Regions from separate parts of the Homo sapiens genome. Here region 1 is linked to region 2. The links come from fine-mapping of genetic effects on gene expression. Tissue or cell type: cerebellum. Region 2 holds a variant in brackets; the other region holds the start of a gene. All regions are shown on one strand. Distances are between the middles of the regions.

The links. PIP is the estimated chance that this variant, and not a neighbour inherited with it, causes the effect.
Region 1: it holds the start of PRKCB, and the variant in region 2 is fine-mapped to the expression of PRKCB in cerebellum (GTEx, PIP above 0.99). The same link has a PIP of 0.9 or more in cerebellar hemisphere and lung.

Annotation. Positions count from the first base shown.
Region 1 is chr16:23,829,714-23,845,260 of GRCh38, forward strand. PRKCB (protein kinase C beta) reads left to right here and starts at 6,270. Exons shown (of 17, transcript NM_002738.7): 1 at 6,270-6,635; 2 at 7,662-7,693. The coding sequence starts at 6,463. RefSeq lists silencers at 5,766-6,405, 6,436-6,515, 6,846-6,925 and enhancers at 5,879-6,426, 6,427-6,972, 7,236-7,375, 12,455-12,504.
Region 2 is chr16:23,847,890-23,863,436 of GRCh38, forward strand. The region is part of intron 2 of PRKCB (protein kinase C beta); the gene reads left to right. Among named protein-coding and RNA genes, the nearest start is that of PRKCB, 20 kb to the left of the region's middle. RefSeq lists an enhancer at 5,631-5,720. The variant G/T (reference allele first, on the strand shown) is at 9,727.

The DNA.
Region 1 (15,547 bases), 18 kb before region 2:
AATGAGAGACTTACTTTTCTCATTTTGATATTTGTTTTTTATATAACTTATAGCTTTTCTTGTTCTTCTTTTCCTGCATTGCTATCTTATTTTGTGGTTAGCTGATTTTTTTTTTTTTTTTTGCAGTGAAATGTTTTAATTCCCTTCTCATTCCCTTGTGTGTATATTCTATAATTATTTTCTATGTTGTTACCATGGGGATTACATTAAAATCCTAAAGTCAGAATATTCTAATTTGAATTCATACCAACTTAACTTTAATAACATACAAAATCTCTGCTTCTAATACCTCTGTCCCCATCCCTTTCAGTTATTAATGTCATAAAATTACATCTTCATACATTGTGCACCCAAAAACATAAAGTAGTAATTTTAAATAATGCATTAGTCTCTTAAATCACGGAGAAAACAGTAAGTGGATTTTATGATGATATTAGCTTTTATAATTGCCCATGTATTTACTTTTACTGAAATATTTATTTCTTTACATTGCTTCAAGACACTGTCCAGTGCACTTTGATTTCAACCTGCTGGACTTCCTTTAGTTTAGTATTTCTTGCATGGCAGCTCTAGTGGTGACAAACTCAGCTTTTGCTTATGTGGGGATGTCTTAATTTCTCTCACTTTTGAAGGACGGTTTTGACAGTTAGAGAATTTTGGGTTGATTATTTTTTCTTTTAGCATTTTGAATGCATCAGCCCACTACCTTCTAACTGCTGAAGTTCTGATAAGAATCTGCAGATAATCTTATTGAGGATCCCTTGTATATGATGAGTCACTTCTCTCTTACACTTTAAAGATTCTCTTTTTGTCTTTGGCTTCAGACAGTCTGATTATAATGTCTTGGTGTGGGTCTTTTTGAGTTATTCCTACTTGAAGTTTGCTGAGCTTCTTGGATGTTTATATTCATGTCTTTTATCAAACTTGGGGAGTTTCTGGCCATTATTTCTTCAAATAAGCTCTCAAATAATTCTCCTTTCTCTTTCTCTTTTTCTGAAATTCCCATGGTACGCTGTTGGTTTGCTTGATTGTGTCCCACAAGTGTTTCAGGCTTTGTTCACTTTTTTCAATCATTTTTCTTTTCGTTCTTCAGACTCAATAATTTCAATTGTCCTATATTTAAATTTGTGCATTCTTTTTTCTGCTTGCTTAAATCTGCCTTTGAAACCATTTAGTGATTTTTAAATTTCATTTATTGTATTTTCACCTCTAGAATTTCTTTTTGGTTTCTTTTTGGGTTTTCTATTTTTTTATTGACATTTCTGTTATGTTTATGCATTTTTTTAACTTTCTCCATGTCTTCCTTTAGTTCTTTGAGCATCTTCAATATAGTTGCTTTAAAGCCATTGTCTAGTAGGCTCACCTTCTGATCATTCTCTGGGACAGTTTCTGTTGGTTTATTTTTTCCCTTTGAAGGGGCCATACTCCCCTCTCTCCCTTCCTCTCTCCCTGCCTTCCTGCCTTCCTTCCCCTCTATCTCTTTCCTTCTTTCTCCCCCTGTCTCTCTTCCTGTCTTTCTTTTTTGAGATAAGGTCTCACTCTGTCACCCAAACTGGAGTGTGGTGGCACAATCATGGCTCACTGCAACCCCCAACTCTCAGGTTCAAATGATCCTCCTGCCTCAGCCTCCTGAGTAGCTGGGACTACAGGTGTGGACTACCTGTCTGGCTAATTAAAAAAAAGTTTTTGTGGAGATGGGGTCTCACTATATTGCCTCAACTGGTCTCAAACTCCTAGACTCAAGTAGTCTTCCCACCTTGGCTTCCCAAAGTGGAGGCATAAGCCTCCACCACACCTAGCCTTTTCTTGTTTCTTACTATAGGTTTTTAGTTACAATTAGTAGCAGTTCTAAGTGATCTTGAGAGTTGCCACATTTCAAATGCTCAGCAGCCACATGTGGGTACTGTGACAACTGTGTTGAAGAGTGCAGCCTTAGAACAAAGGGATTGAGGCCGAGCGCGGTGGCTCATGCCTGTAATCCCAGCACTTTGGGAGGCTGAGGCGGGTGGATCACCTGAGGTCAGAAATTTCAGACCAGCCTGGCCAACATGGTGAAACCCTGTCTCTACTAAAAATACAAAAATTAGCTGTGCACGGTGGTGCACGCCTGTAATCCCAGCTACTTGGGAGGCCGAGGCAGGAGAATGGGTTGAACCTGGGAGGCGGAAGTTGCAGTGAGCCGAGGTCGCATCACTCCACTCCAGCCTGGGTGACAGAGCAAGACTCTGTCTCAAAAAAAACCAAAACCAAAACAAAACAAAACAAAAAACAAAAGAATAAAGGGGTTGAGAGGCAAACTACTGTATCCTTGTCCTACCTTAGAGAAGAGGAAAATGAGACACAGGAGGAAGTAAGTGACTTGCCCAGGGTTATGCACTGTAGTCATTTAAATGGTAGCCCCCAAGAAGGTACATCCATGTTATAATTCCTGGAACTTGTGAATGTCATTTTATTTGGCGAAGGGGTCTTTGCAGGCATAACTATATTAAGGATTTTGAGATGAAGAGATCATCTCGGATTATCCAGTGAAGCCCTAAATCCAAGGACCAGTGTTCATATAAAAGATATACAAGGTATAGGGCCAGTGCAGTGGCTCACGCCTGTAATCCTAGCACTTTGGGAGGCTGAAGGCAGGCAGATCACCTGAGGTCAGGAGTTTGAGACCAGCCTGGCCAACATGGTGAAACCCTGTCTCTACTAAAAGTACAAAGATTAGCCGGGCATGGTGGCGGGTGCCTGTAATCCCAGCTACTTGGGAGGCTGAGGCAGGAAAATCACTTGAACCCGGGAGGCAGAGACTGCAGTGAGCCGAGACCATGCCATTTCACTCCAGCCTGGGCAACAAGAGCAAAACTCCATCTTGGAAAAAAAAAAAAAAGAAAAGAAAAAAGAGATATACAGGGGATATTAGAGAAACAGAAGGGGTGAAGATAGGCACACAGAGGAGAGGGTGATATAAAGACAGAGGAGGATGGGAGCGATGTGACCACAAGCCAGGGAAGCCAGGGAATGCTGACAGCCTCCAGAAGCCACAAAAGGCAAGGAAGCGTTCCCCTCTGAAACCTCCAGAGGGAATGTGGCCCTGCTGACACTGTGACTTATGGTTTCTGGCCTCCAGAATGATGAGAGAATAAATTTTTGTTATTTCTAGCCACCCTGTTCTGTTATAATTTTTTATGGCAGCCACAGGTCTGGAGCAAAGGGACCTTGGACTCCATTCTCAGCCACAGCAACCTGCCCCCTCACTGCCTCTGAAATCTTTCAAGTGACCAGCATTCACTCCTTCATGAGCAGAGTGGGCCTGGGGGGCTCTGGTGGCAAGGAGGACCCATGCCCAATCTACGGGGAGCTGCTGCCCTGCAGCTCCTGTTGGCACTATGCCATGTTGCCCTAATCTCTTGCCTGATCTGCTCAGTTGACCTCTTCACTGCTCTTCCTGCCTCCACCCTTTCTCCTCTAATTTCCACATAGTAGCTAGGGTAAGCTTTTAAAATGAAAACCCCATAAGTTGTATCAGGCCACTCCTCAGCTTCCAACCCTCCAATGGCTTCCATTCACTGGAGTGAAATCCAAACTCCTTATCACATTTGCAAAGCCCTTTGGGGCCCTGCTACCTCCCTGACCTCATCTCATAAGTCCTCTCTCCTCTCTGTTCATCCAACCACTGAGGCCTTCTCGCTATTTCTCCAACATACCAAGCTTGATACTCCCCTAGGCTCTTTGCATTTTCTGTTTTCTCTGTCTGGAAACTCTCGATAGTCCCCTGGCTCACCCTCTCACTTTATTCAGGCCTTACTCAGATGTCCCCATATTATAAAGGATTTCCCTGTGGTCTTTATAATAATGCTTTATTTTTATTTACAAACATTCTATTATACACCACCAGGTATGGATTCGTTAGTTGGTTAGGTTATTACTCCCCCTTCCCCATTAGACTATAAGCTCCACTAGGGCAGGGACCTTTGTCTGGTTTGTTTAACAGTATCTGGAACAGCACACAGTAGGTGCTTAATAAGCAATTTGTTGATTGAAAGAACAAATGTATGAGTGAGGGAGGAATGTAGGCTCCATTTAGCTCTATCTTTTTTCCTAGATAAGTCAGAATCTGGATATTTAAGTAAAATTCTATGACCCGTGAACTTAAAAAACAACAACAACAACAACAACCCACTGGGCTAGCTTAAAAAAAATAGAGCATCTGGAGCCACCAGTTTGAGACCCTGACCTACAGGAATCTGGGTCCAATGGGAACCACATTTCTCATCCTCACTTGGTGCAACGCCTTCAGGAACCAAGTGGCTCTTTTCCATCCACAGCCCTTGCATCCCCAGGCCCCGGCGCCATGAGGTACTGTTTGTTGTTACAGACCAAAGTCATCCAGGGCACTTCATTCAAAAGGCAGGATGTGGGCTGTGAGCTTCCAGCTCATCAGTTCAAAGGAAATCTACTTCAGCAGCAATGTCTCCTGGGATGTTTTCCCAAGCCTCCCTGGGAGGTGGTGGGGCCTCTTCAAGGACTAATAATAGACAGGCACATCCAGTTTCCCAAACATGTCAACCTTAAAAGTGAATGCTATTTTTTCCTCCTTACCTTTGAATTACTATGTAGGAGAGGGACATTCTATTATTGCAGCCCTTGCTCTCGACATGCTACCTAATAATGACTTACCACTCAGCAGCTTCCAGGCAAAATTGTCATAGTGGGACCTGAGCTCGTGCAACTCCAGCCTGCCCCCCTTCATCCACCACTACTCAGGTTCACCCCTTTGTCACCAGGATGCTTTGTAGTCAGGCCAGCCCAATCACCATTCAGCAACGGTATGACTGTGGGTGTATCTTAATCACTCTGAACCTCCCCATCCTTATCCATAATGAAAGTTACCAGATCTACATAGGGTTGTTGCGGGGGCTAAATAAGACAGCACAAGTACCTGATGCCCAGCAATCACTTGATATTTATTATTAAACACCTACTGGGTGTGAGTGGGGGTAAGAAGTGCCGACCTTTAAGTCTTCATTCATTCACTTGTTCATCCATGCCCTCACTCAATCAACCAATATTTACTGGGGTCTTGGGAGGTGTCAGGCACTGAGCTTGGTGCTGGGCGACATGGTGGTGAACAGCCCCCCTGCTCTCACAGAGCCTAGGTCTGGTGAAGGAGCTCACAGCCTAATGAAGCTCTGCGTTCCCAGAGTGGGGGACATGGTGGCAGTGGGTATCTTTAGGCCTTGTGCATGAACAGGGCGCTAAATAACATTGAATTACACATTGTAGACAATTATTACCCTTTCAGTTACCTTCAGATCACATCAAGGAGAGAGTCCTGGTTGGATAGTAATGTCTTTAACACCCCTCTAGCATTTATTAATTTCCTCTCTTAACAAATAAAAGATGACTTCAGTCGAAGATGCTTAGGACAGATGACGGCACCTGGAGATATTTTAATAATGTAGATACCTCTTGCTGTTCAAACTCAGACCAAAAGAGATAGGCTTTTTTTCCCCCAGAGGGTGCACAAATACGACCAGAATTTGTGAAGACGAGTCAGAAATGAATGAAATTTGGAAAAATATTGATCTACTGAAATCCTTCCTCCCCACACTATTAGCCCTATGTTACAGTTGGGGAAACGGAGTCGTTTTGCAGAGGGGATGGACAGAAGGTAGGGAGTTCTCTTCCAAACGTGCAGGAGGCAAGCAAAGCCAAGAATCTTCTCTGTGGTGGAGTTAGAGACATATAAAATAAAGATCGCTCCTCCCCTACCTCTGCAGAACGTGTGTGTGTATGTGTGTGTAAGTGTGTGCGGCCACAAGCCTTTCCGAATGAGTGACAGCGGGAGCCCATCCCTCCAGGAGACGCGTGCAGAATGACCAATGGGATGGATGGGGGTGGATGGGTACCAGTCTCCGCAGAGGCCGGGGTGGAATTCGCTGCGCCCCACCCCTTCCACCCGCTCCCCTTCGCCCCGTAGGTCTTTCCACTCTCGCTCCTCCCCTGGGCACATCTCCTGAACGCAGCCCCGGGGGCCGAGGACGGGGTGGGGTGGGGGGCGAGGCTCGGGTCCGACGACCCCGGGCTGCGGTCCCGGCGCTGCAGAGCTGCGGCTGTGCACGCTTAGCCGCGAGGCCCGCGGTAGCCCGGGCGCCGATATGTAAAGCAGCTGGCAGCGCTGGGCGGGGCCTGGGCGCGATGCAAATGAGGAGGGCGGGGCTGGCCCGGGGCTCCGCCTCCCTCCCCCGCAGCTGGGGCCAGCGGTGCCAAGCGCAGCTGGACGAGCGGCAGCAGCTGGGCGAGTGACAGCCCCGGCTCCGCGCGCCGCGGCCGCCAGAGCCGGCGCAGGGGAAGCGCCCGCGGCCCCGGGTGCAGCAGCGGCCGCCGCCTCCCGCGCCTCCCCGGCCCGCAGCCCGCGGTCCCGCGGCCCCGGGGCCGGCACCTCTCGGGCTCCGGCTCCCCGCGCGCAAGATGGCTGACCCGGCTGCGGGGCCGCCGCCGAGCGAGGGCGAGGAGAGCACCGTGCGCTTCGCCCGCAAAGGCGCCCTCCGGCAGAAGAACGTGCATGAGGTCAAGAACCACAAATTCACCGCCCGCTTCTTCAAGCAGCCCACCTTCTGCAGCCACTGCACCGACTTCATCTGGTGAGCGCGCGCGCGCAGGGCACCTTCCCGGGCCCCCGAGGGCAGCGCCGCGCCAGGGACCCCCTCTCCGCGCCCTCTGCGCCCTCCGCGCCCTCCGCACCCTGGGACCCCGCGTCTCCGGACTCCCGGCTCCGGACCCTGCTGCCCGGGACTCCCGGATGGACAGTCCTGCCGTTGCCCTGTCCCCACCCTGGTCCCAGACGGGCCGCCGCGGGGCGCCTCCTGCCCTCTCCTGCTCTCAGGCGCCTCTAGAGCGCCCAGGGGCGGCGTCGCGGGAGCCTTTGCTCCACCTGACTAGGAGCGCGCGGGGTCTGTGCCTGCCCTGGAGGGCAGCGCCTCGGGTGCTCTCCGACCCGGGGTTCCCTATCTCTCCGCCTGCTTCCGGGCGCGAGGAGCCCTCGCCCCCCACCCCTTGTTTCCGGGGGGGGCGGCGCCCTGGGTGTCCTTCTCTATCTCCCTGCGGGCATGGGACATCCTTTCTCACTCCTCTGTGCCTCCGGGCAGCGCCCTGTGTTATCTCCCATTGCCCCTCCCCGAGGGCCTGGGTTCCCCTTTCCACTCCTCGGTCACATCACTGCGGGCCCCTTTCTTCCCCAGTCCCTCCAGTAGTGGGGCATCCTTTCCTCCTTCCCAGTCCCCCTCCCAGAGGACACCACCGCCGCGGGGTCACTCTCGCCCTCCCTCTGAATGCGTCTTTATCTCTTCTCTTTTCCCGAGGGTGCTCGGGGCATCTATGGGTACATCTGTCGCCTGCCTTCAGCCCCTACCCCGACGGAAACGCTCCCCACTATCCCGCCACCTGGTGGTCGCAGCCTCCTCTCTTCTGCAGGAGTGAAGGCAGATGGGGGTTACAGCCGAGCTCCCACCTACCCCCACAAAGGCGGAAGACTCTTGGGCACCCGCCTGTGGCTGGGAGTTTGCACCTGGGGTACAGAGGCAGGGAGGAAGGCGGGTGACTCTGTGGGTAACTAGCTGGAGGCTGGGCCCCCCGGGCTGCCTGACATACACCTCCTTCTGCTTTTGCAGGGGCTTCGGGAAGCAGGGATTCCAGTGCCAAGGTAGGCTCTGGGGCTTTGGGGATGCTATTTGTGGGAAGAGAGGGTGAAAAATACTTTATAGAAGAAGTTACTGAGTTAGGCAGAGAGTGAAAGAATCACGTTGGTCGGAGTGACCTCCCAGGCTAGGAATTCTTCACCACAACAGGGTCCTTTCAAGGGGTGTGTGTGTGACTGGGGCCGATGGCGCTTGGGAGTCTTACATGCCAAGGAAGTTCACCTACCCTTCCTGCCTTCCCGGCTCTGGAAGAGTCAAAGCGGTCTCCTGAAGCAATCCTGGCATGGTCAGTTCCGCTGGGGGAGAAAGTGTTTTCCCGGGACGTTTCTGGGAGAACCTGTCCTCCTTAGTTCCCCTTTCTCTGCCCATGTCCCTTCCTTATCTCACCCAGGGAGGTTCTGCCTCTCCCTGCCTTGCAGAGGTCTCTGCAGGTGGCTGCCGCTCCTCTGCAGATGGTGCATCCCCTAGAAAGGCGACTGTGTTTGTCGCCTGGGCCTCCTCTCTCTCTGAAAGAAGTATTTCCAGAGGGAGTGTTTCTCAGATCCTGGTTTAAATCACCCTATCTTCTGGGTTGAAACAGAAAGGTCTCCAGGGCACTGGTTACCTGAGTTCTTGCATCTGGCTTGAGATCCTGGACTCTAACCAGGGGTATCAAACCTGCTGGTGGTGAGTTGATCACGTGTAAAGTGTCCCCCTCCCCCGTCTTTGGGGCTCATGTCTAAAAGACAGATTGCAAATTGGCTCTCCAGGACCAAAAGTTACCCGCAGCTCTGTGTAGCCCTTAGGGTGTCTTACTTGTGAATTTGATGTGAACGTTTTAGAACTGGGAGATTTCACATACACATCCTAATTTCCAACTTTAACTTTGCTGAGAAATGGTCTCACTTTCGCTTGAAAACAATCGTTTGGAGCTGAGAGCCGTCGTCGTAGATGGGGAACAGCCTTACCATTTTGTCTCAGTTGATCCCAGTGGGGAACACTTCACCCATTTCTGGCCCCTGTGGGCATTTAAGTTTGCAACCTCTCATCTGGAAAGTTTGTGTGTTATGTTTTCTTTTTAATTTAAATTTTAATTTTTCACTCTTGGGCTTGGTAAGATTGAGTTTGGTAAGAAACGGCACATTTCTGGGGTATTGTATCTTTAGGGGCAAAGTGACCACCACCCTGGTGAGCTGGGTTTAAATCAAAAGAAAGTATTTGAGTGTGGAAGAGTCTGACGTGATTTAGCACTGACTGACAGTTTTGTGGCTGCACCTCCACCCTCCAGGGAAAAGTAAAGTGATCCCTAGTGAGTGTAGGTGGCATCGTCAGTGGTGCAGAATGTTTGCTTGCTGGCAGCATGGCACTGTGCTCCTCTGAGACTCTTGCATACTCTTCTGAGATCGGGGTCCCGGTGGGCTCAGTGAGCCCTGCCAACCTACCCAGCCTGTCTTACCAAGATTTGGATCCTCTGCACCACACCAGAGGACTCCTCAAGTCTCTTTAAGTGGCAACAACTTAGGCCCTGGTGCAAACAAATTTGGATTGTTTTCTAGAACTTTGACCCCTCAAACAAAATGCCAATGGTGTCTTGGCACCGGAATGTGTAATTTCTTCTTTGAGGTTGCCTTTCACTTCCATGAATCAGTTTCAGTCTTTGTCTCTTGCTGAGATCGGGGGCGATTTTTAAACATTTTTACCACGGATCTTCTATGCCACCTGCTCTGCTGTTATTGATGGATGGGAAAGTCACTTTGGAATGTGCAAGGCATGACACATTTGAAATAGGAGATCCTTTAACTCAAAGTCTGGAAGATAATAGGAATTTTCTGATGTTAAGAGAAAAAGGCAGAATTAAAGTTTGTAATGAAATATGGGCGCTCTAGAGATAGGAGTGTCTTTTTTTTTTTTTTGACAGGGTCTCACTCTTTTGCCCCGGCTGGAGTACAGTGGTATGATCAGAGCTCACTGCAGCCTCAAACTCATGGGCTCAAGTGATCCTCCTGCATCAGCCTCCTGATTAATTGGGACTACAAGTACGCACCACCATGCCTGGCTAATTTTAAAACAACTTTTGTAGAGAAGGGGTCTTGTGATGTTGCAAGACTGGTCTTGAACTCCTGGCTTCAAGCAACCCTCCCACCTCAGCCCCCAAGTGTTGGGATTATAGGTGTGAGCCACTATGCCCCTCTGGAGTGTCTATTTTTTAAATTGCCTTTCTTTTTCTCTTCCCTGCCTCCCCACCAAGAGGCAGCGTAGAGAAGTGGGCATTTGCACAGGCTACCAGGCAAGTCCCTGTCGGTCTGAATCCTAGCTTTGAGACTTCCCAGGCATATTACTTAGCCTCTCTGTATTTCAGCCTCCTTGTCTATAAAACGGAGTCAGTAACAGTACCATAGTGTGGCTGAGCAGCTCCAACTCATTGCAATATCCAAGATTCTTGGACCAGAGCTTGACACAGAGTATGCTCAGAAAATATCTGCTCTTATGATTGTCCCCAGACTACCCCAATGGTGGGGCAGCTGGCACGAGAGAAGACTGGCTCTGCAGGGTTGCTTTGCTATGGAACTGCCTGCCAGGTAAGAGTCAAAACTCAGCCATGAACTTCTGGTCACTCTGTGTAGCTGCTTTGACAGCATATTCCATTTGGGCAGCAGTAGGGAGGAGTGAGGGGAGGGGCAGATTGGCAGTCCCTGAAATTGAGATGTTTAGAATGGGAACATATAGGAAAGAGGGAAATTTATCCCTGGTACTCAGCATTGCCTGGGACTAATTCTGGAACCACTGAGGAGTTCCTTAGTATCTGATTGTTCTTGGTATCAGATATTTCCTCTGAAAGTAAATCCACTTACGATGGAATCAACAGTTTATACAAAACACATAAGGTTTTATGATCTCACTTAAGTCAGCAATCCAGAGCCCAGGGCCTCAGGTTCCTTTGAGTTTTCTGCTCCACTATCCCTGGGGAGTGACAATTATCTCATGGTCCAAAAAGGATGCTAGACGCTGGAGTCCTCACACCCTTCTTTCAGCTAGCAGGAAGGAAGAAAGGGGTAAAGAAGGGCATATAGCACATGCTCGGTGTCACTTGTTTAAGTTGCTCAAGATCCTTCTACCTACATCCTCTTAGCTAGGGTTTAATCACATACCCACACCTTGCTGTGAGGGAGCATGTGGGAAATGTAGTGTTTATTTCAGGCAGCCACTATTTAGAGGATGTTTCCATTTCAAAAATACAAGCAGAGAGAGGATGTTGTCTCTGCCACTCTGGTAGGAGGTGTGTAGGATGATCGCAAGGCAAAGAAACCATTGAGAGTAACCTTCAGGCTCTATTACATTGTCATGGAAATTGGGGACACTGCTATGGGTTGGGAGAGGAAGGATGGAAAACTCATAAACCTTGGGAAATTATGGATTTCTGTGTGCTCAGGGGAGCTTAAGAATAGATTTTCTTGCTTTCGTATGATGATAGGACGAAACTCTAGGTTGACTGCCTCATAATTTCTCCCTTTTTGTTTCCACTCTGTCTATTTCTTATAAAACCACTCTCTGGGAGGTAATTTAAGAATGTGTTTGATGACAGGGAACTGGGGCTGAAGATCCCTATTGTAAAATTGCCTAAATTCTAGAGTAGAAGTGGAACTCCTTTGACAAGCAAGGCAGATTTCTCTCTATGGCATTTTTTTCTTTGCCTTTTATTTATTTATTTATTTATTGAGACAGAGTCTCACTCTGTTGCCCAGGCTGCAGTGCAGTGGCACCATTTCGACTCACGGTAACCTCCATCTCCTGGGGCTCAAGCGATTCTTCTGCCTCAGCCTCCCAGGTTGCTGGGATTACGGGGGCCTGCCACCACGCCTGGCTAATTTTTGTATTTTTAGTAGAGATGGGGTTTCATCATTTTGGCCAGGCTGGTCTTGAACTCCTGACCTCAGGTGATCCACCCGCCTCGGACTCCCAAAGTGTTCAGATTACAGGCATGAGCTACAGTGCTGGCTGTTTCTGTGGCATTCTTTACAGGAACTTAGGACCTGCATTTGAGCTTTAATTTTAATTAAAGTCTTCTCTAAGAAGATTTTTGGTAGAGAGAAAAACCTTCTTCTTTTATTTTAAATTTTGTTTTTAGAGACAGGGTCTCACTGTGTGGCCCAGGCTGGAGGGCAGTGACATGATCATAGCTCACTGCAGCCTCAAACTCCTGGGCTCAAGTGATTCTCCTGCCTCAGTGTCCTGAGTAGCTGGGACTGCAGGTGTGTGTCACCACGGCCCTTTTTTTTTTTTTTTTTTTTTTTTGAGACGGAGTCTTACTCTGTCATCCAGGCTGGAGTGCAGTGACGTGATCTTAGCTCACTGCAACCTCCACTTCCCAGGTTCAAGTGATTCTCGTGCCTCAGCCTCTTGAGTAGCTGGAACTACAGGCACGTGCCACCATGCCCGGCTAATTTTTATATTTTTAGTAGAGGTGGGGTTTCGCCACGTTGGTTAGGCTGGTCTCGAACTCCTGACCTCAGGTGATCTGCCCGCCTTAGCTTCCCAAAGTGCTAGGATTACAGGTGTGAGCCACTGAACCTGGCCAAATACATATTTTTTAATTTTAAAATTTTTTGTAGAGATAGTGGATCTTGCTTTGCTGCCTGTGCCTGGTCTCAAACTGCCAGCCTCAAGCCAGGAGTCTCATTCTGCTTTGGCCTCCCAAAGTGTTTGTTGTTTTTGTAAAGGAAGTGACTTTGGTAGAAATAGAGAGGCAATAAAATATAGAGATTCAGAATTCTTAGCAATGAGTTGGAGTCCAGTAGAATTGGGTATGTATCTCTGATGGAGCCGCTTACTCCCTGTGTGACCTTGGGCAAGTCGTCCCCCAGCAGCAACTTTGGTCTCCTCATCTGTAAAATGGGGATAATAGCACCTAACTCATAGGGTTATGGTGAAGAATAATGAGGTGGTGCATGAGAAATAGCCACAGCAAGTATCAATGACTCTAAGTGAGACCATCAGTATTACTTGATTAGCTGTAGGAAACTGTGTCAAAGTGGGACGGAGTTCATTCTGGAACTTGTTAAATGACTAGGCCTCTTTCATGTACTTAGATAGTTTCTCTTCTTGGGTATATTTCTTCCTGGGTATTGGGTAACACCAGTGAGTGCTCAGTTCAGTGTCTGGGCCCAGAAACCCATGCCTGGTTAGCATTGTCTTTTCTTCTGAGAAAGATCTGAACTTGCCATGGACTCTCTAGAAAAACCCCAGTGTACAAATTTTCTATGAAAAGCTAGAATTGATGATTATAATGAGTAAGTTGGCTCTTCCTTTTCCCATGTAGATTAGAAAACATGTTTTTAAATCTTCTAATTGAAATTATTCTTAAAAAACCCCAAAGTCTGACATGACTCCAACTATTGTTGTTTTCATCAATATCAATCCTATCAAATCAAAGTTTATTTTAGTGTGTAATTAACACATGTAGACTAGAAAAGTTTGCACTTTTTTATATCACAAAAAAGGTTAATTTTATTTTCTATGGAAAGCTAGAATTGATGATAATGAGTAAGTCAGCTCTTCTTTTTCCCATGTAGATTAGAAAACAGGTTTTTAAATCTTGTAGTTGAAATTATTCTTAAAAAACCCCAAATCATGACATGAATCCAACCATTCTTGTTTTTATCAATATTCACCCTATCAAATATAAAGTTTATTTTAGTGGGTAATTAACATGTGTAGATTAGCATAGCATATGTGTATTTATATAACAAAAAATGAATCAAAAGTTAATTTTATTTTGGGCAGTGTTCCCTAGAAACTTATAATATGGCCCCATGCACTTCAGGTTGAATTTTCTTAGTAAAATCATAAAGAGGTCCATTTTTTCAAAAAATCACCAAGTCAGGCTGCAAGTTTAGAGGTTACTTCTATTGTTTCACTTCTCTTTCTTCCCAGAAGCAGACCCCAGAGACCTGTGAGCCAAACTCCACTCACCTTTTAGCTTATTCTAAATGTGTCCTGCGGGCTTCTCTGTGAATAAAAGGCAGAGGCTTTTTGACTTCGTGTTTGATGATTTGGCTTTTTTCTTTTTTTTACCACCTGACGGGGGATTTCAGGCTCAATGTCCCAATCGAAATAAGAATCTTTGAGTGGGTTAACATTGAGTCTTAAAAAGGAGGGCTGATTTGTTGGAGAGGCAACAACGAATTCATTTTTCACTGTAGAGCACTCAGGAGGAGTCTGAAGCTTTGTCACTGGGCAACAGAATGCCTTTCTAAGTAAATATGGAAAATATGACCTTTGAAAATCTAGCTGATATGATATATAGATTCTTAGGATATAATTTTTAAAAAATATATTATTTCCAAGCACTAATGATACTCCAGAGATACTGCCCACAACCAGATGCAGCATGTTTATAGTGTATCTAGGCCAAAAAAAAAAAAAAAAAAAAAAAAAAATAGAAGATACAGAAGAAGGCAATTGGTCAAAAGATTAACTGAAGGTTTGAAAATAATTTTATACACATTTGTACTGTTGGGGTCTCTCTTCTCTCTGTCTCTGCTTATCCTTCTGTCTCTGTCTCTTTGTTTCCATCACACATGCACACACACACACGTGTATACACACACATATATGTAAGTAGATCAATATGTTATAATTTTCACAATACGCATCTTCTTTTGCTACTTTTCAGATACAGGTCATTAAATTACTAAGTATAATTTAAAATATATGGTCTGGCCTTTTAACTCTGCAGTTCAATTAATTCTTGGGTAGATAGGGGGATCTGCTGAAAAGTTTGTCTCTGACGCCTTCAAAGGTAAGTCCCTTATGTTCTGGCATTTGCTCTAATAACATGAATTCTTTGACTTCATTCATCCAATCTCTTCATTGAAATTGTGTGAAATTCCATAGATAGAATGTTAGCCTTTTTACAGAGAATACAACATCCACAGTGTTTACATATGGCATTTGGAGGTGTGATGGCTGCTTGAAAATCCAGTAGGAAATTTGTCTATTCACCACATACATTCATTTATTCATCCATCCATCCCTCCATTTATCCACCCACCTCTCTATTCATCATCCGTTTTTCTGTTTATCTATTTGTCCATCCATGCATCCATCCCTTCACTCCATTCTCCTTCTAAAAGTTCTTTTTTTTGAGACGGAGTCTTGCTCTGTCGCCCAGGCTGGAGTGCAGTGGTGCAATCTTTGGCTAACTGCAAGCTCCACCTCCCAGGTTCACGCCATTCTCCTGCCTCAGCCTCCCGAGTAGCTGGGACTACAGGCGCCCACCACCTCGCCCGGCTAATTTTTTGTATTTTTAGTAGAGATGGGGTTTCACCATGTTAGCCAGGATGGTATCGATCTCCTGACATTGTGATCCTCCTGCCTCGGTCTCCCAAAGTGCTGAGATTATAGGCGTGAGCCACCGCGCCCAGTCTCTTTTTTTTGTTTAGACAAACTCTCACTCTTTCGCCCAGGCTGGAGTGCAGTAGTACGATCTTGGTTCACTGTAACCTCCGCCTCCCAGGTTCAAGTGATTCTCCTGCCTCAGCCTCCCAAGTAGCTGCGATTACAGGTGCCCACCACCTCGCCCAGCTAATTTTTGTATTTTTAGTAGAGACAGGGTTTCACCATGCTGGCCAGGCTGGTCTCTAACTCCTGACCTCAAGTGATCTGCCCACCTCAACCTCCCAAAGTGCTGGGATTACAGGAGTGAGCCACCACACCTGGCCTCACTGATTAAGTTCTATGTGTCAAGTTCTATTTGTCAGGAACTATTTTAGGTGACAGAATACAATGGTGAATGAAACTGAGAAAATTTCTGTTGTCATGGAGCTTATGATGTAGCGGGGGGAGATAAGACATTCTACAGATCATTTCACTCATATTTA
Region 2 (15,547 bases):
ACACCAAGAATGTAAAAACACTTTGGATGGCATCCCTACTCCTCCTCGGACCGGTGAAGATTCCACAGAGGAGGTGACATTTGGGAACAGTCTTACAGCAGGAGTGGGAGTTCCCGGATTGACAAGGGGATGAGGGCAGGGGAGGGTGTTTCAGGCACAGGACAGGACAACGCAGTTGAGATAGTGAGGAGAGAGAATAGGGCACATGCAGGGAACAGGAAGAAGAGGGTGTGAGGGAGGGAGGAGCAGGTGGGAGGTGAACGTCATATCAGAGGGGTTGGCCCCTGTGAAGGCAGTGTAGTGACTAGGAAGTGGTTGTTGTCACTGTTTTAAAGTGGGATGTGTGGGGGTGAGTGAAATGGCCAAATGTTTGAAAAAGAGGAGCATGAGATGCCTTTGGCAACAATACTTGCCATGACTCAAATCCTGAAATTCTAGGCCTGCAGTGATGGAAGTCAGGCAGGAGAAACTGAAATGGCCATTTAGAAGCAGTGGGGGTGCCTTACCGGAGCACCTCGTGGCTGTTGCTATTTTTCACACCCTAAAGAGACATTTGGAATTTCATGTCAGTCATATTGTTGATTGTTCTATTTTGAGGGTGGTTACTAGTTATTTTTATGGTTCTAACAATAGGGACATCTCTCTTCACTGTATCCTTAGACGCGGAGGGCCGTAGAAATGAATTTTCCTCTGAAAGGCATCCTCCCACTCCCTCTCCCTCTCCACTGCTGTCACCCAGTGGGTACGTGTTTATTGAGCACATGCTGCACATGGTGGTGAAGAGTTGGTGTTTTGGAGAAAGAAAGGCTTCGATTTAAATCTTGACTTCTTGCTGTGGGACCTTAAGCAAGTTACTTAACCTCTTCGAGCTTCTGTTTTTTCATAGCTAAAAGGATATAATAATAAAACCTACTTTATGTGAAGTGTTTCTTAGCACCCTACCTGACATATATACAGTAAGCACTTGATAAATGGTAGCTATTTCTGTTCTTCCTAGGACTGGGCACTGTCCTTGTCCTTACTGAGTTTATAATCCTGTTGGGGAGGCAAGATGAATGCTCTTGAATCAAGGAGACGACGCAAGAATGGATGTGCTTACATGTCGTGGTCAATAGCATTAGCTGCACCTTACAGTGGATCTTAGAGAGAAATGCTTGGTTGGGGCCGGAGAGGTGATTTGAGTGTGAGTGAGCACAGTGCTTTCTGAGAAACCCTTTCCTGGCCTGCAACACTTTAATTTGTGGGAAACCTCAGGAAGTAGAATTGCAATCTGTGATCGCCCCATCGGCTGACCTCACTTCAAAAATGTATTGGTAGCATTTCAACTTTAAATAGATTTGTGACCATTTCACCCTTCTAAATTTGGGTTCCCTTCACCCTTTGGGTGGAGTGTTTATATCCCTTTTCGGTTGAAGAAGCTGACAGATAGTGTAGGTGAAGGTGGAGGGTGAAGTCTGAAGGACGGTCGCTTGTCTCATTGGGATAGTCAGGGCAGTGATTTTTGTGGGATGGCCCTATATTGAAGATCTTCTTTCCCTCCCTAAAGGTAGAGACCATTCTTTAGAGTTTAGTGAGTGCTGCAAATGAAGATTTGATCGTTATTTGGATTTTTTTGCATGTGTATGTGTGGATTTTTTTTGGTAGTTATCCAGATACATTTTGTGGCAAAATTTATGGCTGAGGGTATTGATAATTGTTTCTGAGACAAACAGTGCACTTAGGGAAACAGGATTGACATATAGAGTAGAGAAGGACTTCTTTTTATTTCAGTTGGATATTCATCTTTTGGTGGCTAGCTTTTTTTAAAAAAACTATTAATATTATTTTTGATTGACAAATCATAATTGATGGGGTACAATGTGATGTTTTGATACATATATACAATGTGTCATGGTTAATTCAAACTAATTAATATAACCATCAGCTTGTTTACTTATTTTTTATGGTGAGACATTTGAAATTTACTTAGTTATTTGAAATATATGATACACTTATTATTGACTATGTTACCCTGCTGTGCAATAGATCTCCAAACCTATTCCCCTTGTCTATCTGAAACTTTGTATCCTTTGATCAACAACTCCTTCCCTCATCCCAGATTCTGGTAACCATCCTCCTACTCTCTACTTCTATGACTACGACTTTATTAGATTCCACATATACGTGAGATCATGCTGTATTTGTCTCTGTGTTTCTGGCTTATTTTACTTAGCATAATGTCCTCCAGATTCATGTATATTGTCACAAATGATATAATTTCTCTCTTTTTTTTAAAGTCTGGGTAGGATTCTATTGTGTGTATACACCATACTTTCTTTATTCATTCATCCTCTGTTGAACACTTAGGTTGATTCCCTATCTTTGCTATTGTAAGTAGTACTGCAACAAACATGGGAATGCACATATTCTTTGACATATTGATTTCAGTTGCTTTAAATATATGCCCAGAAGTGGGATTACTTAAAAAAAATTTAATTTAATTTTTTTTAATTTGAGACTGAGTTTTGCTCTTGTTGCCCAGGCTGGAGTACAATGGTGCGATCTCAGCTCACTGCAACCTCCACCTCTCAGGTTCAAGACATTCTCCTGCCTCGGCCTCCCAAGCAGCTGGGATTACGGGCATGCACCACCACGCCTGGCTAATTTTGTATTTTTGCTAGAGACGGGGTTTCACTGTGTTGGTGAGGCTGGTCTCAAACTCCTGACCTCAGGTGATCCACCTGCCTTGGCCTTCCAAAGTGCTGGAATTACAGGTGTCAGCCACCATGCTCGGTGGTAGTTCACTTTTTTGTTTTTTTGAGAAACTTTTAGTACTGTTTTTCATAAGGCTATACTAACTTACATTCCCACCAACAGTGTATGGGTCCCCTTTTCTCTACATCTTCTCCAACATGTTATTTTTTATCTTTTTGATAAAAGCCATTCTAACAGGTGTGAGGTGATATCTCACTGTGGTTTTAATTTGCATTTCCCTAGTGCTTAGTGTGCTGAACATTTTTTCAAGTACCTATTGGCCATTTGTGTGTCTTCTTTTGAGTAATTTCTGTTCAGATCCCATTTTTAAATCAGGTTATTTGTTTACTTGCTATTGAGTTGTTTGAGTTCTTTGTATATTTTGGATATTAACTTCTTATCAGATACAGCATTTGCAAATATTTTTCCCATTCTGTGGGCTGTCTCTTCACTTTGTTAATTGTTTCCTTTGCTGTGAGGAAGCTTTCAGTTTGATGCCCTCCCATTTGTCTCCTTTTGCTTTTGCTTAATCATTGCCCAAACCAATGTTGTGGAGTTTTTCCCTTATGTTTTTCTCTAGCAGTTTTATAGTTTCAGGTTTTAAGTCTTTAATCAATTTTGAGTTGATTGTGTATGTGGTTTGTAAGATAAAGGTCTAATTGCATTCTTCTACATGTGGATATCCAGTTTTCCCAACACCATTTACTGAAGAGACTGTCCTTTCCCTCATTGTGTGTTTTTGGCACCTTTATCAAAAATCAGTTGGCTATAAATGTGCAGGTTTATATCTGGGCTTTCTATCCTGTTCCATTGGTTGATGCATCTGTTTTTATGCTAGTACCGTGCTGTTTTGATTACAATTGCTTTATAATGTATTTTGAAATTAAGTCGTGTGATTCCTCCAGCTTTGTTCTTTTTGCTCAATGTTGTCTTGGCTATTTGGGGTCTTTTGTGGTCCCATATGAACTTAGGGATTGTTTTTTCTATTTCTGTGAAAAATGACATTGGAATTTTGATAAGAATTGCACTGAATCTGTAGATTGCTTTGGCTAGTATGGACATTTTCACAATATTAATTTGTCTAGTCCATGAACACGGAATATCTTTTCATTTATTTGTGTTTTCCTCAGTTTCTTTCATCAGTGTTGTATAGTTTTCAGTATACAGATAGTTTGCTTCCTTGGATACATTTACACCTAAGTAATTTTTTTTTTGCTGCTATTGTAAATTAGTTTGTTTTCTTAATTTTCTGGTCTGGTAGTTTGTTATTAGATAAGCTAGTATATAAAATTAGAATAATTAGATAATCTAATATAGAAACACTACTGATTGTATGTTGGTTTTGCATCCTGCAGTTTTATTGAATTTGTTGATCAGTTCTAACAGCTTTTTTAGTGGATTCTTTAGGGTTTTCTGTATATAAAATCACCTTGTCAACAAATAGAGACAAGTTCACTTCTTCCCTTCCTATTAGGATGCCTTTTATTTCTTTCTCTTTCCTAATTACTCTGGCTGGGACTTCCAGTACTCTATTGAAAAGAAAGGGTGAGAGTGGGCGTCCTGATCTTAGAGGAAAGGCTTTCAACTTTTCAGTGCTGAGAAGGATGTTAGCTACGGGTTTGTCATAATAGAGCCCATAGTGTTTATTGTGTTGAGTGCATTTCCTTTATACCTTATTGCTGAGTACTTTTTTCATGAAAGAATGTTAATTTTTTTCAAGTGCTTTTTTTTCCTGCATCTATTGAGATGATCATATGATTTTTATCCTTTATTTTGTTAACATGGGTATCACATTTATTGATTTCTATGTGTTGAACCATCCTTGCATCCCAGGGAGAAATCCCACTTGATCATGGTGAATAAAATTCTTTTAATGTGTTCTTCAATTTGGTTTGCTAATATTTTGTTGAGGATTTTTCCATCTATGTTCATCAGGGATATTGGTTTATAGTTTTCTTCTCTTGTGTTTTTGTTTGGCTTTGGTATGATAGTCTTGGATAATGAGTTTAGAAATACTCCCTTAATTTTTTGGAAGAGTTTAAGAAGAATTGATTGACATCCAGATCAAGAAACAGAACATGCTGGTACCCTAGAAGCATCATCTCACAATCCCTATCAACCGTATCCTTCAGGAGTAATCACTATCCTAACCTCTATCACCTATGATTACTTTCATCTGTTCCTGAACTTATGCCCACTTTTCTGTTATGCAACTCCATTGACTTATGCCCATTTTTCTGTTAAAAAATTTAAAAAGTGCAGAGCTTTAAGTTACTGAGGCTGAGCCTGAGAAATGTTAGCTGGGACTTTTTTAGTTTTGCATAGAGGAAGTGAAATCCGTATGGGAGACAGGCACCTTCTGGAATCACCCATTGGGGAATGGTGCCGTTTGCCTTCTTTGGGGAACATCTGCTTCCTGTTTCAATGTTGCCCATCGGTTCCAGACTGTTCAACAAGGAAGCCAGGGCATTCTGACAGTTTTTCCACACAATAATTTAGCTCTGTAAATACTAGGAAAACTTGAGCTCACAAACTATTTTTAGGGCTTAACATTTCAAAAATTCTGTATTAGTAAGAATCTATTAAAGCTGCTGTAACAGACAAACCTTGAAGTCTCTGTGGCTTGACAGAAGGGAGTTTATTTCTTACTCATGTCACTAACCAGTGCAGGTGGTCCTGGTCAGGACATCTTCCACAGAGTCACACAGGACCCCAGGGTCCTCCCCATTGGGCCAGTGGAAGGGGAAAGGGAAATTGAGAAAGCACACTCATTTCACAACAACTTCAGCTGGGGAAGGAAGTCACATCACTTCTGCTCACATTCTATTTGCCAGAACCCAGGCAAAGAGGCAACCAACGGAAGGGGGTCCTGGGACATGTCGACTAGCTCTATGTCCAGGAGGAAAAGAAAACAGGTTTTGATGAACTCAGTAAATCTCACTCCAGTCTCCAAAGCCATAATTTCCTTTGTCTTTCTTTGCGGTGATGTATCTAGTTTTATCTCTCACTTGACTGGTAAAACTAAGATGCAAAACTCTGGACGTCTTTATCTTATCAAACATAGCAGGGAAAGAGTGAGTTCTATTTGTGTTCCTAAAAGTGAAATAAAGAAGCACTTTTCTTGTTTTTAGTTATTAGAACAATCTGGCTCTTGTCAGACTTTCTAGTTTTTCAATCAGTCAGAATTCTTGCCTCTCTGGTTGCCTGTTGTATTAATCCATTCTCATGCTGCTAATAAAGGCATAACTGAGACTGGGTAATTTATAAAGGAAAGAGGTTTAATTGACTCACAATTCAGCATGGCTGGGGAGGCCTCACAATCATGGCAGAAGGCAAAGGAAGGTCAAGGCACTTCTTACATGGCAGCAGGCAAGAGAGCGTGCACAGGGGAACTGCCCTTTATAAAACCATCAGATCTCGTGAGACTTATTCACTATCACGAGAACAGCATTAGAAAACCCACCCCCATGATTCCATTACCTTCCGCCAGGTCCTTCTCATGACACATGGGGATTATGAGAGCTACAATTCAAGATGAGATTTGGGTGGGGACACAGCCAAACCATATCACCTGTGGACATCCCAAGCAGATCTCTTTGAGGCCGGGTTAGTTCTCTTCTAAGCTGACTTGTTATATAGAAGAATCCTTTGTTGGTTCTACTTCCAGATATTTGACTGGACACCCAACAAATCAATTATCTATTGCTGGATAGCACATAACCTCAAGGCTTAGTGGCTTAAAGTAGCCACTGTTTTATTTAGTTTTAGTTTCTGTGGGTCAGTAATTTGGGCTGGGCTCAGCTGGGTGGTCTGTCTGATCTGGGCAGGGATTGGCTGTTCTTGGCTGGGCTCATTTACCTTCCTGGGGCCTCAGCAGGGATGTCTAGGACAACTGGGGCCTCTCTTCAGGTCTTTCATCTTCCAGTGGGCTATCCTGAGCATGGTCATATGCTGATGGGTGCATTCTCTGGGCATGAGCAAGGGCTGCAGGGCTTCTTGAAGCCAAGGCTCAGAACATGCATAACATCACTTCTGCCATATTCCCTGGTCAAAGCAAATCACAAGCCCACCCCAGAAGTAAAGGAGGAAATAGAGAAGAGAATAGAGATGCCTCCTCTTGATGGGAGAAGCTGCAAATAATTTGTGATATTTTTTGGAACCCACCACACTAATTTCAGTGTGGTCCTCGCAATTGCTTGGCTGTCTAAAAACATACTCCAGTCTAGTGTGCATTTCTGAAAATGAACTTGATCAAAGGCAGGCCCCAAATGAGTGCTCAACATTTACACCTGATAATAATACTACCTACCTCCTAGGGAAATGGTAGGGCCAGATGAGATGCTGTATGCAAAGGATACGGCCAGGACTTAGTGCACACGCAACACTGAATACTACCACCATGACTACTGAATACTGCCATCAAATACTACCGTTACTACCACTTGGCACTCCCTAAAAGCTTGAGATTCAGAGAAAGGAAGACAAAGCCCCTGTACTTGAGGAGGGAGAGAATAAAGAGAGCCGGCGGGGGAGGGGGTGGCAGGAGAGAGAGAGAGAGAGAGGCGTGTGAGTGAGTTCTTGCAACACAGTGTGGTCAGTGTGATCACAGAGCTGTGATGGAGTGCGGATGAGGTCTGATGACTTACTGGTCAAGAGCATGGGTTCAGGCCTCAGTTCCTCCCCAATCACATGTGGGGTCTTAGGCATCTTTCTTTTTAATCTTCAGTTTCTTTGTCTGTGAAATGAAGATAATGGCACAGAGCCTACCTCCCAGAGTTCTATGTGGATTAAATGAGACAGGCAAACAACAACAAAAACCACAAACAAACAAAAAACAAAAATGAAAACAAAAATCATGTGATTGCTTATTAAATGTTAGTTATAGAAAAAAATATAAGTTCTTAAATGTGCCCTTGTAAAAATGTCCTAAAGACCTCATCTTTATTTAGTTCTTCTGCAACTCTGGCTAGCATCATTGATAAATTGTCTTAAAAGATGAAGATTTGTATGCAGGTGGTTTATTGGGGATGTAGCTCTTGGGAACAACATCTATAAGGGATAGAGGGAAGCAGGGAAGAGGTAGTTGAACTGTGGTGCAATAGTTGTAATAGAGGCCAAAGCCAATTCCATGGCTGGAGCTGAGACGGCCCTTCAGAACTGGGACAAGCCAATGCATCAAGTGGGCATTGATTGTGGGCTGCTCTTTGGAAGGCAGCATTACCTTGGGCAAAGCAGCTCCCTTCTTCAGGGGAGGAGTCCCAGGGAGGACACAGCTGTGAGCAATTGGTTTTCCCAGCAGCTGGGGGAATGAGTGCCTTGTCCCTATAGATGGTTTTGAGGGGGCTGCATTTGGGGGAATGCCTTCTGGGGTTCACTGCGTGCTTCTATGTCTTTCTTAGAGGTTCATTTCAAACTATACCTTGGTTCATTCACAGTACTGATTTAGTTACTATCCAGATTCATAGACTGTACTTGCTGGCACTGGAATATCATGGACAGAGAGTCCTAATCTGACTAGGCCTAGGGAATGACATGGGAATAGCTTGTCCTGGGTCATCCAGCTACCAGAGAGGAGAGCTGGGATTCATATCCAACCAACGATACTTTATACCTCACATTACTTCTGTTATGCTACACACTCCTGAGTCACAGGAGATTCCAACTTGTATTTCAAGCCCAGACTGCATGACTTCAATGTCCTGTTGCCCTTAACCCCTGTATCAGATTGCAGCCCCACTCTGGAAAGTTTTCTTGAATTCTTCTATGTATGTTTTTTAAACTGTGGGTCATCACTCATTAGAAGTTCATGAAGTCAATATAATAGGTCAAGAATACCATGAAGAAAGCAGAACAGAAAATATCACAGTGCATCACTCTCAGGAAGGGTAGATATTGTTTCACGAAACTTTTTTTTTTTTTGAGACAGGGTCTTTGTCTGTCGCACAGGCTGGAGTGCAGTGGTACAATCATAGCTGACTGTATCCTCAACCTCCCAGGCCCAAGAGATCCTCCCACCTCATTCTCATGAGTAGCTGGGACTTGAGGCACATGCCATCATGCCTGGCTAATTTCTAAAACTTTTTGTAGAGATAGGGTCTCCCTATGTTGCTCGGGCTGGTCTCAAACTCCTGAGCTCAAACAGTCCTCCTACCTTGGCTTCCCAAAGTACTGGGATTATAGGCATGAGCCACTACTCCTGGCCTCATACAATTTTTATTTGATATAAACATATATAGCCATGAGTGAACTGGGTCAAAATGTAAAATGTGTCTCTTACTGCAGGTAACTGTCAATGTAGTTCGAATATCACTGTGAAATATATAGAGAAGAGGCTCTGGGGGCTCATGAACTTGGCCCATGGACTGTTGAGGCTTTTTTTTTAATCTTTAGAGATGATATAAATGTAGTGCTTTGAATTCTTTATAATTAGAAGTTTTATTCTTACCCCATCACCATGTCCCAAGATAATTTTTATTATCATCTTTCAGCTTTAACATATCACAGACAAAAGTTATTTTTCCAAATAGAATTTTAAGTATGGTATAAGAGGTTTTTAGAAATGGAATGATTGGTTTTGGCGGAACTGCCTGGCCTGACCTGTCACTCGGGTGAAGTGTCAGAGAGCTGTGTCGAATGCTGGCGGAGAACTGTCCCTCTCCTGCAGAGAGAAGGAGCTGCTTATCCTGGGGGATAATGTGGGTTGAGAAAGAAGTGTTTTATGAGCAGAATCAGCACAGAGGGAGGGAGGAGGAGGTGTTTAGGGGCTGCAGAGAGCCGCCAGAAGATGTGGGAACAGTATGCCAGCACGGAGGTGGGTCAGATCCCCATGGTGGGACTCTGCTGAGGGTTGCCTCCAGCCGAGACTTCCAAGGGCTGGGATTCAGTGTGTGTTTATGTTCTCTGGTGTGCCTGATAGGTGGGGGCCCACATGACAGCTGGCCTCTCTGTGTTTCCCTTCTGGCCGTCTCTGATTTGGGGCCCAAGGGCCATAGG[G/T]GGGCCAGGGCACTCCAGATGGGACGAAAAGTCAAGTCCAAGAAAAAAATGAAATCCGGGCTAGGCTTGTCCCTGCTTGAGGATGTGAGAGAGAGAGAGAGAGTGTGTGTGTGTGTGTGGGTGTGTGCGCACGTGCGTCTGCAGTCCCTAGAAGGATCTCTATTCATTGGACAGAGAGGCCAAGGGAATTTTCCATTTCCTGGATGTCTTCAAAGATTTCAAATGCCATTAACTTGAGCTGACATTTATTGAGTACTCACTCGGTGACTGGCACTGTTCTAAGTACTTTACATGTATTAACTTATTTAATCCTCACAACAGCCCTGTGTGGCTGCTACTGTTATTGTTGCCATTTTATGCTGAGAAAACAGCACAAAGAATTGAGAAATTTTTCCAAAGTTACAGTTAGGATTCAAAAATAGACTTGGTTTTAGGATTGTGTAACTTCAGAATTGATGGTGACAATGACGTTGATGATGAGGATGATGATGATGATGATGAAGGCAGCTAATATTTCAGTGTCTGCAATGAGCTGGGCATTTTCACAAACTTTATCCCTTTGAATCTTTACCTTCCACTAAGATTTGCTGCTATTCTTATCCCTTTTGTAGATAAGAAAGCAAGCTTAGAGAAGATAAAACATTTGCTTAAGTAACTGCAGAGCGTAGATTGAATTCAGGTCCATTCGAGTCAGACTGTCTGTTCACCAAGGTGAAGGGCTCCGGGGGTCACAGAGGAGCACCATGGTGAGGAAGGCCCCGTAAGAGTGTGGCAGAATGGCAACCAGGAAGGATCTGGTATACGGGATGGTGATAAGGCCCATCTCTCATGGCCAGGAAAGTGTGCCTGCCACAGCAATGAATGAAACTGGCAACATTTGACAGGAAGGGGAAATTCTCTAGTGGGAGGAATACTTCCATCAAACTGTTTTTTTTTTTTCCCAGTGGGGGAGTTTGCACATGTGTAGATTTTTTTAGCCATAGCCTTGAATAAGGAATTCAGAAAGTGGCTTCTAGTTTGAGGACTTTCATTGGCCACGTGATCACAGTAGGCTGATTTCTTCATGCCTAAGTTACCAGGCTGGGAGGACAGGCTGAGAACTATGCAAGCTGTTGAGTCACTTGGAAGGAAGAGGGTTACATACAGCAGGCACTTTCATGGAATAATACTTCCCTGAAGAGCTGCACTAATTTATTGAGGCACTGAGCTGGATGCTTCACACACATGATCTCATTGAATGTCCACAGCACCCTAGGAGGTTGATCTCATTATTAACTTCATGAAGTGACTGAGGCTTAGAGATATTAAATAGCTTCCAGCCTGGGAAACATAGTGAAACCCCATCTCTGCAAAGAATAAAAAAAAATGAGCTAGGTGTGGTGGCTCGTGCTTATATTCACAGCTACTTAGGAGGCTGAGGTGGGAGGATCCCTTGAGCTTGTGAGGGTTGAGGCTGTAGTGAGCTTTGATGGCACCACTGCACTCCAGTCTGGGTGACAGAGTGAGACCCTCTCTCTAAACAAACAAATCCCAGGAGACATTAATTAACTTGCCACTGGTCTCTAAGCTAAGTAGTTGAAGAGGGCAACAAACCCAGGTGGTCTGACTCCTAGGCTTGAAGGTCCAGGTTCAGCTACTCCACCAGTATCCCTGGTCAGTCTTTGGCCAGGGCACAGAAGGTGGCATATCAAGTTGTGGGGTCTGATTTGGAAAGTGTGAGATCCCTCCTTTGTATCTTTTCCAAAGTCCACTCAGAAGAGAGTAGTGTAAAAGGAGTGATAGCACAGCGTGGTCTGGCTGGCATAGTCAGCCGCCCTGTGATGGGCAGGGGGAAGCTGCTTTCTGTCCTCAAGCAGCCCCTAAACTTGTAGGCCAGACTCATAAATCACACATTGATAACTCAGTGTGATGTGTGCTGTAATGGTGGAGAGGGGGGAGAAATGCCAGGAGCAGCTCACCTCCCAGGGTCCTGGGGAGGCTGCACAGAGGAGCCTGAGTTCTCAGTTGGGTTTTGAGGCAGAGGAAGCAGTGAAAGAGAGAGGAAGAATGTCAGTGAGGTGCGGGGAGAAGCAAGAGAGAGAAGACACTTGGCAGGAAGAAGTAGTTGAAGTACCCGGGGATGTTTAGCTTGAAGAATAGAAAATTTGGAGGAGGCAGAGAAAAGGCAGGAAACTTTAAAAGCAGGAGAGAAAGACCTCCAGGTTCCCAAAGGGAGCATGGCACTTCTCAAGGGGGTGAGGTTGACAGCATTAGGAGAGAGAGAGAGAGAAAGAGAGAGAGAGAAAGAGAGAGAGCGAGAGAGTTGTCAAGGAAGGGAAGGACCCATGGAGGGGAGAGCACAGGTGAAAATGAGAAGTGATGGGAAAATGGGTGGGAAATAAATGAAGTTTTGAGGCCAGTTGAGAAATCTTGCTTGGTGGTTTCTATTTTCTTTGTGAAGCAGAAAAAAAGAGGAATTAGACAGACCTGCATTCAAATCTCATGACCCCAGGCAAATTTCTTATCCTTAGCTTCTTCATTTTGAAAAAGGGGTGAATGATAATAGGACCTACCTAATAAGAGTTGTCAGGATCAAATATGTTAGTGCTTGTGTAAGATGCAGTGGCACCCTGGCACTTAGTACCAAAAAAAAGTACTATAAATGTTGTCACCTATTGAGGGAGTCCGGGTTTGGGTGCTTGATACATAGAAATATCATGAATAGCAGCAGAGAATACAAGAAGAAGAGAAAGCTTGGGGGAGAAGATAGAGAATTATGCGTTGGGTATGTTGAGGATGAGGTGCCTGTGCCATATCCGGGTGTAGGTGCCCAAAGGCAACTGGAAGTCATGAGAAGTCAGGGATAGAGGTAAATGTTTGGGAGTTGTTAATACAGGGGTGCATTTTTAAAATATCTGAAGTATGTTACTGGTGGCACTCAAAGATTTTTAATGATGTAAGGTATTCAACAACATGGAACTACGTAGTTTTAAAAGAAATTCTCTTGTAGGCCGCGTGTGGTGGCTCACACCTGTAATCCCAGCACTTTGAGAGGCCAAGGTGGGTGGATCACTTGAGGTCAGGAATTCCAGACCAGCCTGGTGAACATGGTGAAACCCCATCTCTACTAAAAAAAAAAAGAAACAAAACAAATCAAAACAAAAAAACCGGGCATGGTGGTGTGTGCCTGTACTCCCAGCTACTCGGGAGGCTGAGGCAGGAGAATTGCTTGGACCCGGAGTCAGAGGTTGCAGTGAGCCAAGATCGCGCTACTGTACTCTAGCCTAGGCAACAGAATGAGACTCAGTATAAAAAAGAAAAAAATGTTTTTTTCTTTTAATTCTTCGGGTTAAGGAGAGTGTCTTAGTTTGGTGCTATCATGTCCTAAACATCTTTCTAATGCATGCAAATCTCCCTTTTAAGCTAAAAGAATGAAGCAATCTCAGACTCAGAGCTATGTACCTGCTAGAATTTAATAATTTAAATTTTCATTGTGTTCTTCATACTCACCTTCTATTTATAGCAAGTGTTACTAGCTCTCCAATTCTGGAGGTTGTTTCAGATAGGATGCATTAGTTCTTTTTTTTTTTTTGAGACAAGGTCTTGCTCTGTCACCCAGGCTGGAGTGCAGTGGCACAAACACAGCTCACTGCAGCCTCAACCTCCCAGGCTCAAGCAAACCTCCCACTTCAGCCTCCCAGGTAGCTGGGACTACAGGCATGTCCCACCATTCCTAGCTAATTATTTTATTTTTTATAGAAACAGGGTCTCACTGTGTTTCCCAGGCTGGTCTTGAATTTGGGCTCAAGCAATCCTCACACCTCCGCCTCCTAAAGTGCTGGGATTACAGGCATGAGCCACCATGCCTGACCTGCTTTGGTTCTTAAAAACAGAATATCTGGCGAGCCTAACAAGGAGGCTGGTGGTTCCAGGGTTGGTTTAATCAAAGACTTAACACTGTCATCAAGCGCCTCTCAGTTATTTGCTCTGCCATCCTCAAAATGTGATCAGTGTCTCCCTTCTTGGTCCCAGGAAGGCTGTGATAGCTCCCAGAATCACATACTCACAGGGCAAAGCAGGAAGGAAGGGGACATAGGACAAAGGATTTGTGTTTAAGTATTTCATGTCACATTTGCATGTGGTGCTTGGAGCTGTGGCAGCTATGTTTTGACCATGAGGGACAAGGTTGGCAAGCTGTAAATGGCAGTGTAAAAAGAGGGAGAGGATCTGTCTCCTTCACAATATCCTTGAGCCCCTGAATTCACTAATCTTGATATAGCTCTATCTCTTGAAATTTTGTTTTGTTAGATAATTCTCTTACTGCTTAAAACGTCTTAAGATGGGTTTTCTGTTCTTTCCAGTAGAATGCATTGTATCTCACACAATTTGAGGTTATTGCCTCAACCTACTCTGAATCATTGCTCCTCCCCCTTTTTTCCTGGTTGATTAGCTTCTCTTGAGATTGTGTCTTATCTTCCTGGTTTTTTGTATGTCGGGTAATTTTGGATTGTATCCTGGACACTGTAAGTGTTGTGCTGTGGAGACTCTGGATTCATTCGTATTTCTCTGAAAAGCATTGATGTTTTTGTTTTAGTAGGCCATTGACTTGGTTGGACAGTAGACTGTCTCTGGGACACCAGCTCAGATGTCAGTTCTGTTTTTTATTTTATCCTTGAGTCTTCTTTGGGACTGCCCCATGCATGCATGGTTCAAGAGTCAGCCAGACATTTGGGTGGGGTTTAGACACAGAATTTGGGGCTCTTCTCTCTTGGCTGTCTCTATTATGGAATTCCTTCCTCACTTTCCAGAAGCCGTGAGTGACCTGAAACCTGTCCTCTGGTTCTGTACACCAGAAAGACTTGAGGCTTCATGTTGAAGTTTTAGCTGACAGCAGCTTGCGTTCAGGGGAAAAGCTGTAAAATGACCATTCCCTTCTTCCAAGTTTCAACCTCTCTGCAGAATCTGCTTTCTTTTGTTCACTTTCGAGTAATTTCAGGAAAAAATTTTTTTTTCGTTGAGAGTTTTTACTTGTTACCTATGGAAAGGTTGGGTCTAGCTGAAGCTTGCTTGCCCATAACAGAAACGAGACTCTTTTCTGTCTAACACATGGGAAAACTAACGCCCAGAGAGGTGAAGTCATTTCCCCAATTGTCAGAGGCACTTGAGCCAGAGTGACTCCATCTTGAGTAAGGGCTAGGAAAATAAGACCGGGACTTGCTGGGCTGCATTCCCAGAAAGAAAGGTATTCCTAGCCTCTAGATGTCTACAGTTAAGGGAACAGATTGATAATGTTTACTAAACAGAGCCAGGCTTGGCAGTGTCCAGCTATCCCGATATCTTGAGAACAAAGGCATTCCTAATTTTGCTTTAAGGATAATAATATTGATTATTGCAAAACAGAGTAATTAAGAAAATTAATCCTTTATCACAAACCCTTGTAGCAGAACACATCTCTCCATGATTTTTAAAATCATATATATATGATTTATATATATGATTATATAATATATAACATATATGATCATATAATCATATATATGCATGTGTATGTGTATATATATACACATGCATATATATGTATATATGTGTATACATACATACGTATATATGTGTATATATACATACATATATATGTGTATATATATACATATATATACACATACACACACACACACACACACACACACACACGAATATTTTACCTAGGGTGGACGTGCTCCTTCTCTTACTTTTAGGAACCCCCTACTCTGTCTATGGAGTAACTGTTCTTTCACCACTTTACTTTCTTAATAAACTTGCTTTTGCTTTGCACTGTGGACTCACCCTGAATTCTTTCTTGTGC